Linked DNA regions of Homo sapiens. The protein of the gene in region 1 binds, or shares a complex with, the protein of each later gene. Each region holds a gene or a part of one and is shown in the gene's direction. Other genes may lie near its edges.

Region 1 (3,919 bases):
GCAGTGGCACAATCTCAGCTCACCGCAAGCTCCGCCTCATGGGTTCACGCCATTCTCCTGCCTCAGCCTCCCAAGTAGCTGGGACTACAGGTGCCCGCCACCACGCCCGGCTAATTTTTTGTATTTTTAGTGTTAGCCAGGATGGTCTTGATCTCCCAACCTTGTGATCCGCCCGCCTTGGCCTCCCAAATTGCTGGGATTACAGGCGTGAGCCACCACACCCAGCCTGAGCGTTGCTTATAGTTAAACATTGTTTGTTTCATGATCTGTATGTTTATTTTGAGCTATAATGTAGAATATGTTTCTTGGTGAGGGTCGCAAACAAAGCTTGAATATTACTATAAGGTATTTGGTCACTGGGGAAGACTGAGAAGTGATACGATAGGGGGATTCTCTTTGACGTTCTTCAGACATATTGTCTTGAATGCTCAAGAGCCATCTGATGAATTGTCTCTTCCAGGAACCCTGTGGAATCTTTCATCCCATGACTCAATCAAAATGGAGATTGTGGACCATGCACTGCATGCCTTGACAGATGAAGTGATCATTCCTCATTCTGGTTGGGAGCGGGAACCTAATGAAGACTGTAAGCCACGCCACATTGAGTGGGAATCGGTGCTCACCAACACAGCTGGCTGCCTTAGGTAACAGTAGGGACTTTGAGAATATGAAGATGAATTTTTGAGGACTGACTTAAATTTCCTAAAAAAAAAAAAAAATTAAAATTCTTTAGCCTATTCTTTAGCCTCCATTCCTATCTGTATTGCATACTGTAACTCCAACCTTTCTATCTTTGTTGCTATTCTCTCATGTATACCACATGTACCTATATCAGTTTTCTTGCTGTTCCCCACACATCCTCTTCACTTTTATGCCTCTTTGACTTTGTTCATCTACTTTGGTAAGCTTTTGTTCAGCATCTACCACATGTAAGGTGGTCTAGTCCTGGACTTGTGTGTGTCTATGTCCTTGCCCTAGTTATTTGTATTTCAAGTCAGGCTGTGATAAATTCAGCAAAAGGGGTACAGAGTACTAGGAGGTTAGGGCATGGGTGAGGAAGGTCTGTTCTTTCTGTGATGCCTTTCTCTTCTTATTTATCTTTTTGTGGTTAAACTCAAGTGCCTTTATTTTATTAAAGTTTTCCTGAATTCTTTTTATATCCTATAAATGCTGCTATATAATCTTTCTCTCTTTGGAATACACCTCTGTGTGCTGTGTTCCATTCTACATATGTATTATATACTTCCATACGAGAAGTATATATTCCATCTTGAATTACTGCATCTGGTACATATCATTAATCCCTACCCCACAGTGATATAAACATTCAGAAGGCAGGGACTGTTAATCAACTTTCTCTCAACTGCAGTACCTTGCTTATAATAGGTATTTACTATTACAGTGAGTAGAAAAACATATTCAGGAATCTTGTAGGTGTTGAGGGATATTTAAGGGAGGATTTCTGGATTTGAGTCATCTTGAAGCTTCTGGTTTCCCCTCAGGAATGTAAGCTCAGAGAGGAGTGAAGCTCGCCGGAAACTTCGGGAATGTGATGGTTTAGTTGATGCCCTCATTTTCATTGTTCAGGCTGAGATTGGGCAGAAGGATTCAGACAGCAAGGTAAGTGCTGTCTTACCTTTAATGGCTGAGTGAATTTCATTCACCACAACTATGAAGTATCTGTAGGTCAGAGACCTATCATCTCAGGCTTTCAAGTAACATTAAATATTTATACTGTCCCCTACCCCTTATTTTTGAGACAGAGTCTTGCTCTGTTGCCCAGCCTGGGGTGCAGTGATGTGATCTCAGCTCACTGCAACTTCTGCTTCCTGGGTTCAAGCGATTCTCATGCCTCAGCCTCCCAAGTAGATGGGATTACAGGCGTGTGCCACCACACCCAGCTAATTTTTGTATTTTTAGTAGAGACGGGGTTTCACCATGTTGGCCTGGCTGGTCTCAAACTCTTGACCTCACGTGATCCCCCTGCCTCAGCCTCCCAAAGCATTGGGATTACAGGCGTGAGCCACTGTGCCCAGCCAAGCCCTTACTCCTTAAAGTGGGTATTCAACTTAAAACATGTTTTTTGTTTGTTTGTTTGTTTTTTTGAGATGGAGTCTGGCTCTGTCCCAGGCTGGAGTACAGTCCCGTGATCTCGGCTCATTGCGACCTCTCCCTCCTGGGTTCAAGCAATTCTCTGCCTCATCTCCTGAGTAGCTGGGATTACAGGCACCTGCCACCATGCCCGGCTAATTTTTGTGTTTTAGTAGAGACAGGGTTTCACCAGGTTGGTCAGGCTGGTTTTGAACTCCCGACCTCAGGTGATCCACCCGCCTCGGCCTCCCAAAGTGCTGGGATTACAGGTGTGAGCCACTGTGCCCGGCTTTTTTTTCTTTTTTTTTTAAATCTGTCACCTATGTATTTTAAAGCTGCTTAGCTGTCTTCCAAAATTGTACATTGTCTAAGTAGTAAGAATGATGATCCAATTTCAGTCACACACCAAATAGTGGCAGAAGCCAATAAGTCCATAGTTGGACCTTCCATTAGCCTGAGGCTACCGGGATTTCAAGAAGCCTGGAGCACTTAAGAGGCATCCTGAGAAGTTATGGATTGGGTTATGCATTTGAAGATCAACATTTTAATACCTGAGTCATGGAAACCTGTACTTGTGGAGAAATCACAATAGACATTCTTTTTTCTCATTGGCCCTTTTATGTCCCTAAGCTTGTAGAGAACTGTGTTTGCCTTCTTCGGAACTTATCATATCAAGTTCACCGGGAGATCCCACAGGCAGAGCGTTACCAAGAGGCAGCTCCCAATGTTGCCAACAATACTGGGCCACATGCTGCCAGTTGCTTTGGGGCCAAGAAGGGCAAAGGTGAGTCTTGGTTCCTGTTTCTTAGTCTTTAATGTGGGATAGGGAAAGGAAGGAACACTTTAGCTTAAGGTACAAAATACTTGGCAACAGTATGGGAGTCTGCCTGGTTATGGATGTCTTTTTGGTTTGCTGCTTTCCCTGTGTTGTGTGCTTCATTCAAGGTGTGGTGATGGGATGGTGGTTGTGATGTGTTGGTGGTGGTGGTGGTGGTGGTGGTGGTGGTATCAATGAGTGGGGCAGTGGAAAATGAGAACTCAACTAATCTGGGACCTTCTTCCCCATACGTCCTTTGCATTTTCTGTGTTTTTCTTTTCTTCTCTGTGCTTCCCTGCTTATTTGCCCATGATTCTGCTGACATCTTTCTCCTGCATTTTTCTTATTTCATTTCTCTTCTCTGCTTTCTACCTTGGGTGATGCACTGGAAGATGAGTGGTTCTCCAGAGGTGAGTGGAGTCTTTTAAGGTGCTTATCTACTTCTAATTTGCATGTTTTGATTTTAGCTTCCCTAGTATGTCCTTGCCTAACCTTTCCCTGTCTATGCATGTAGGAAAGTTCAGTTGAGGAAGACACTGAAACAAGTTTAGCTCTTTGGAGCTAATAGCTCACGGCATGCTGTTTCTGGGCAGCAGTCCCCATTATCAGAACTCAGGACAATAGCATCAACAGTGGTCATCCTCATCTTACCTATCTGCTGCCTGTTTTCTATCCTTGTTTCTGAATAGTCCCCTGCTGGAACAAGTTGCCCTCACCTGCCCCTTTTCCCCTCGTGGTGCATCTGTGATCAAAAGGTTCTGACTGAAGGATGAAAAATGTGCCAGGTGGAATCTTTTCTTTTTTAAACTGGCTTACCCCTTTTCCCGCCCTTTTTCATTTTTGTAGGGAAAAAACCTATAGAGGATCCAGCAAACGATACAGTGGATTTCCCTAAAAGAACGAGTCCAGCTCGAGGTAAGTTATCTTCTCAGTCTCCAAAGGTCTCATAAACATAGTACAAAGATAAGATATTTAGTAACCTAACAGCAGACTTTATGTAATACGTTTATT
Region 2 (3,720 bases), on another chromosome or scaffold:
CCCAGAATGCAGTTCGCCTTCACTATGGACTACCAGTTGTGGTTAAGCTCTTACACCCACCATCCCACTGGCCTCTGATAAAGGTAAATTGTCAAAGTAGAATTTACCTTTGTTGCAGAATTGAAAATGAAGCATCTCTAGCTGTTGGATGGCTGTCTAAGCATAGTGATCAATAAGTAGGAATTGTATTCCTTAGTAAGTAGGAAGTATGGCTGCGATAGGGGTAAGATTCTGAAATGTTTGTGTAGTCAGAACTACTTTTAGTTGATACCAATAGATTTAGTGTGGTGGGAATTTTAGGGTAAGAAAATGATTTTGTTGAGTTGTATGCCAGTTCTTCCTTCTGTTTTTCAGGCTACTGTTGGATTGATTCGAAATCTTGCCCTTTGTCCCGCAAATCATGCACCTTTGCGTGAGCAGGGTGCCATTCCACGACTAGTTCAGTTGCTTGTTCGTGCACATCAGGATACCCAGCGCCGTACGTCCATGGGTGGGACACAGCAGCAATTTGTGGTAGGTAAATTCTTACAGTGATACCTGGCTATCTAAAAGGAATGCATAAATCCAAAGGATCCTGAACTTCTTTCTTTGGTCATTGGTTCCCCCCATCCGTCTTCCTGAAGAGCTAATGACAAAGTAAATAAATAAATAATTACACATTTCTATGGCTGCAGAGAAAATAAGGCATAGTGTGGCCCCAGTGATATTTCCTTGGACACGTCCTTCACATGGTCAGTCTTACAAAGGTTGGGTTAGGTGTTTCATAAAGTGTTCTCATTTAATTTACACAAAGGCCCACTTCCTTAGGAAGAGGTAGAGTCATAATTTGAGATCAAATCTGTGTAATTTCAGAGCCTCTTACCCTTGCCTCATCATGCATTTTGACTATAAATATTTAGCAGTCCGTTTTATTATCTTTTCTGTGAGTTAAACTTTTTTCATGGACCTAAGAATATTCAGAAATAAGTAGTAGCATTTCTGTACTCTTAACCACAAAAATCTCAACCTGAAGCTTTGATACAAAGTTTGTGTCTTAAAAGTAGCTTCATTAAAAGTATAGTCTAATGACATTTCTGATTTCTCAGACTTTAAGACCTTATTAGGTTAGTTTAGAAAACAAAGATGGAGCCTACCAGAACAGATGTTAGGAATCTCATTTTGCTGGTTGCTTTGTGTATGTACTCATATTGGGGCTTTGGCTTTCTTCATTTATTACTGTTGGTATTGGCCCATCTCCATGAGGTGACTTAATAGAACGTTGAGGGCACCTTTTATTTTAAATCTCTTTTCTAGGAAGAAGAGAGTTTTTGTGTCCTTGTAAGAATCAAGTTATTTATAAAAGCTGCTAAATGTAGCAGAATAATAACCCCTTTTAAAACTCAAATCCAGAAACAGGAGAAACAGATGGTACTTACATATTGCAAAAGCTATCTTCCTTCTATACATGAGGCTGTCAGCTGAATAGTCTTGGAAGAGTGAGGAGTGAATTTTTCTGCTGGCAACTCGGTTAGTTTTAGCAGTTGGTGCTAAAACTTGGCAAAGTTTTCACCAAATACATGGAAGATATACAAAAATAGAGGGGGCATGTAAAAGAAAAACGTTGACATAGTCTGAGCATTACTTTCTCATCTTCTCTTTTTATATACCTTTTACCCAGAATGATTGGTGCCCTTACTGTAGGAAAGTTGTCTTTGGGATTCAGCGCTGTATGGAAGCTCTGTTGCACTGTGTATGGGGGAGGGGTGCTGCTTTGAATTAGTGCTGCCAGGAGGCCTCTTTTCAGTGACATTCAAGTTAATGGAATCCTTCTTCCTTCCTGAACTAATTGCAAGTTACGGGGAACTTCGGGTATATAATGTAAATAATTACAGTCTAATAATTGTTCCTCAAACTTTACAGAGGAGAATGCCCTGTTTGTTAACCATGTTTCTTTTGGCAGGAGGGGGTCCGCATGGAAGAAATAGTTGAAGGTTGTACCGGAGCCCTTCACATCCTAGCTCGGGATGTTCACAACCGAATTGTTATCAGAGGACTAAATACCATTCCATTGTTTGTGCAGGTATGTTTTAAGTGAAGTGTTCTAGGTTTTATGTCCATAAAATTTCCAGATTGTAATGACTAATAACATTTCAGAAAATTAGGGACCATAATAGGGTTACCAACATTTAATTTTATGAAAATTCCCTACATTTTTTGGTCAGTAAGAGAAACATTGAGACTTGAGAAGAGGGAGGAGATTTCACATTTCACTTTTATGGGTGCCTAGAGGGGAGAGCTGACCTGGGCTGCCAGAGGCAGGGCATAGACCCCCAACCAATTCTGGGTTTTCCAAATCTTAGATCAGTTAGAGCTGCCTCTGAAGAAAGGGTTTATAGCTAAAAAATATTATGGAAATCCAGTGCTCCAGAGCATTAAACACCCCAAGACATAAAATTCAGAGAATATTATTTACTACAGTGTGAATGCCTCTTGCACTCTGAATTGGGAATGTTTGCACCACAGTGGGGGGCTTGCCATGTTTTAGCTTTAGATTTAATTAGGTTTTGTTTGTGTTTTCTCCTTAGCTGCTTTATTCTCCCATTGAAAACATCCAAAGAGTAGCTGCAGGGGTCCTCTGTGAACTTGCTCAGGACAAGGAAGCTGCAGAAGCTATTGAAGCTGAGGGAGCCACAGCTCCTCTGACAGAGTTACTTCACTCTAGGAATGAAGGTGTGGGTAAGTAAAAAGGAACCAAAGCCTTTAGCAGATGTGTACATTGAAGTCTCAGTTTTTCCTCAAGGGCCTTTTTCTCCTTGTCTCTTAGCGACATATGCAGCTGCTGTTTTGTTCCGAATGTCTGAGGACAAGCCACAAGATTACAAGAAACGGCTTTCAGTTGAGCTGACCAGCTCTCTCTTCAGAACAGAGCCAATGGCTTGGAATGAGGTAGGGAAATGTGAGCAGTTATTTATCTGGTAGTTTCCTAGAGCAGGTATGGCAGCTTGTTCTTTCCTCTCAAAACACTTAGTACACATTCATTTGCATTGATGTTTCCCTGGCTTGAGTATTTCTTCTTTATGCTGTCTAGCAACTGCTCTGAGGAAGAACTATAATACAAGCTTTAAAGAGTCTGTTCAGAATCATTACAAATAAGTTGTGTTATTTAAAATTATAATTCATAAGGGAGAAAGATGAAAAATGTTACCAGATTAAAGAAGATTTTTCAAAAGGATGTAAGGAAAGAGGCAGTGTTAAACACTGTTAAGAGGACAGTTTATCAGTATTTTTTACTAAACTTTAATAAAACTTTTCTATTTGAATTTCTGCTATGAATTTTTCTTCAGCATTTGTCCTCAGTACAGGTGGTTCCTTGAAACATTGTTTCTAATAAAACTAGAACATCCTGATATTTTATCCATTCTATAGAGATCATTGATGGTACACAGACATACAGTGGATTATGTTTGTTGAGTGAATGGAAAGAGAGATTGTTAGGTTTACAACGATGCAGCTCTTGAGACCGGAGTTTAAGATCAGCCTGGGCAACATAGTGAAACCCCATCTTTAGCTGGGCATGGAGATGGATGCCTATAGTCCTAGCTACTGGGGAGACGGGGGCAGGAGGATTGCTTGAACCCAGGAGTTAACAGACTGCACTCAGTGACAGAGCCAGACTCCAACACAAAAAAAAAAAAAAAAAAAAAGCAAATTACCAGTGAGTAGTGTGTTACTTGGGTTTTT

Evidence for each region.
Region 2: CTNND1 (region 1) and CTNNB1 share a complex: the UniProt entries of both Homo sapiens proteins name them as parts of the cadherin:catenin adhesion complex.

Annotation. Positions count from the first base shown.
Region 1 is NC_000011.10:57,803,161-57,807,079, forward strand, and holds part of CTNND1 (catenin delta-1), read left to right. Parts: intron 1-460; coding exon 461-644; intron 645-1,502; coding exon 1,503-1,620; intron 1,621-2,721; coding exon 2,722-2,875; intron 2,876-3,300; coding exon 3,301-3,318; intron 3,319-3,754; coding exon 3,755-3,823; intron 3,824-3,919. UniProt on the Homo sapiens protein: Key regulator of cell-cell adhesion that associates with and regulates the cell adhesion properties of both C-, E- and N-cadherins, being critical for their surface stability.
Region 2 is NC_000003.12:41,233,785-41,237,504, forward strand, and holds part of CTNNB1 (catenin beta-1), read left to right. Parts: coding exon 1-83; intron 84-354; coding exon 355-513; intron 514-1,939; coding exon 1,940-2,059; intron 2,060-2,564; coding exon 2,565-2,715; intron 2,716-2,803; coding exon 2,804-2,925; intron 2,926-3,720. UniProt on the Homo sapiens protein: Key downstream component of the canonical Wnt signaling pathway.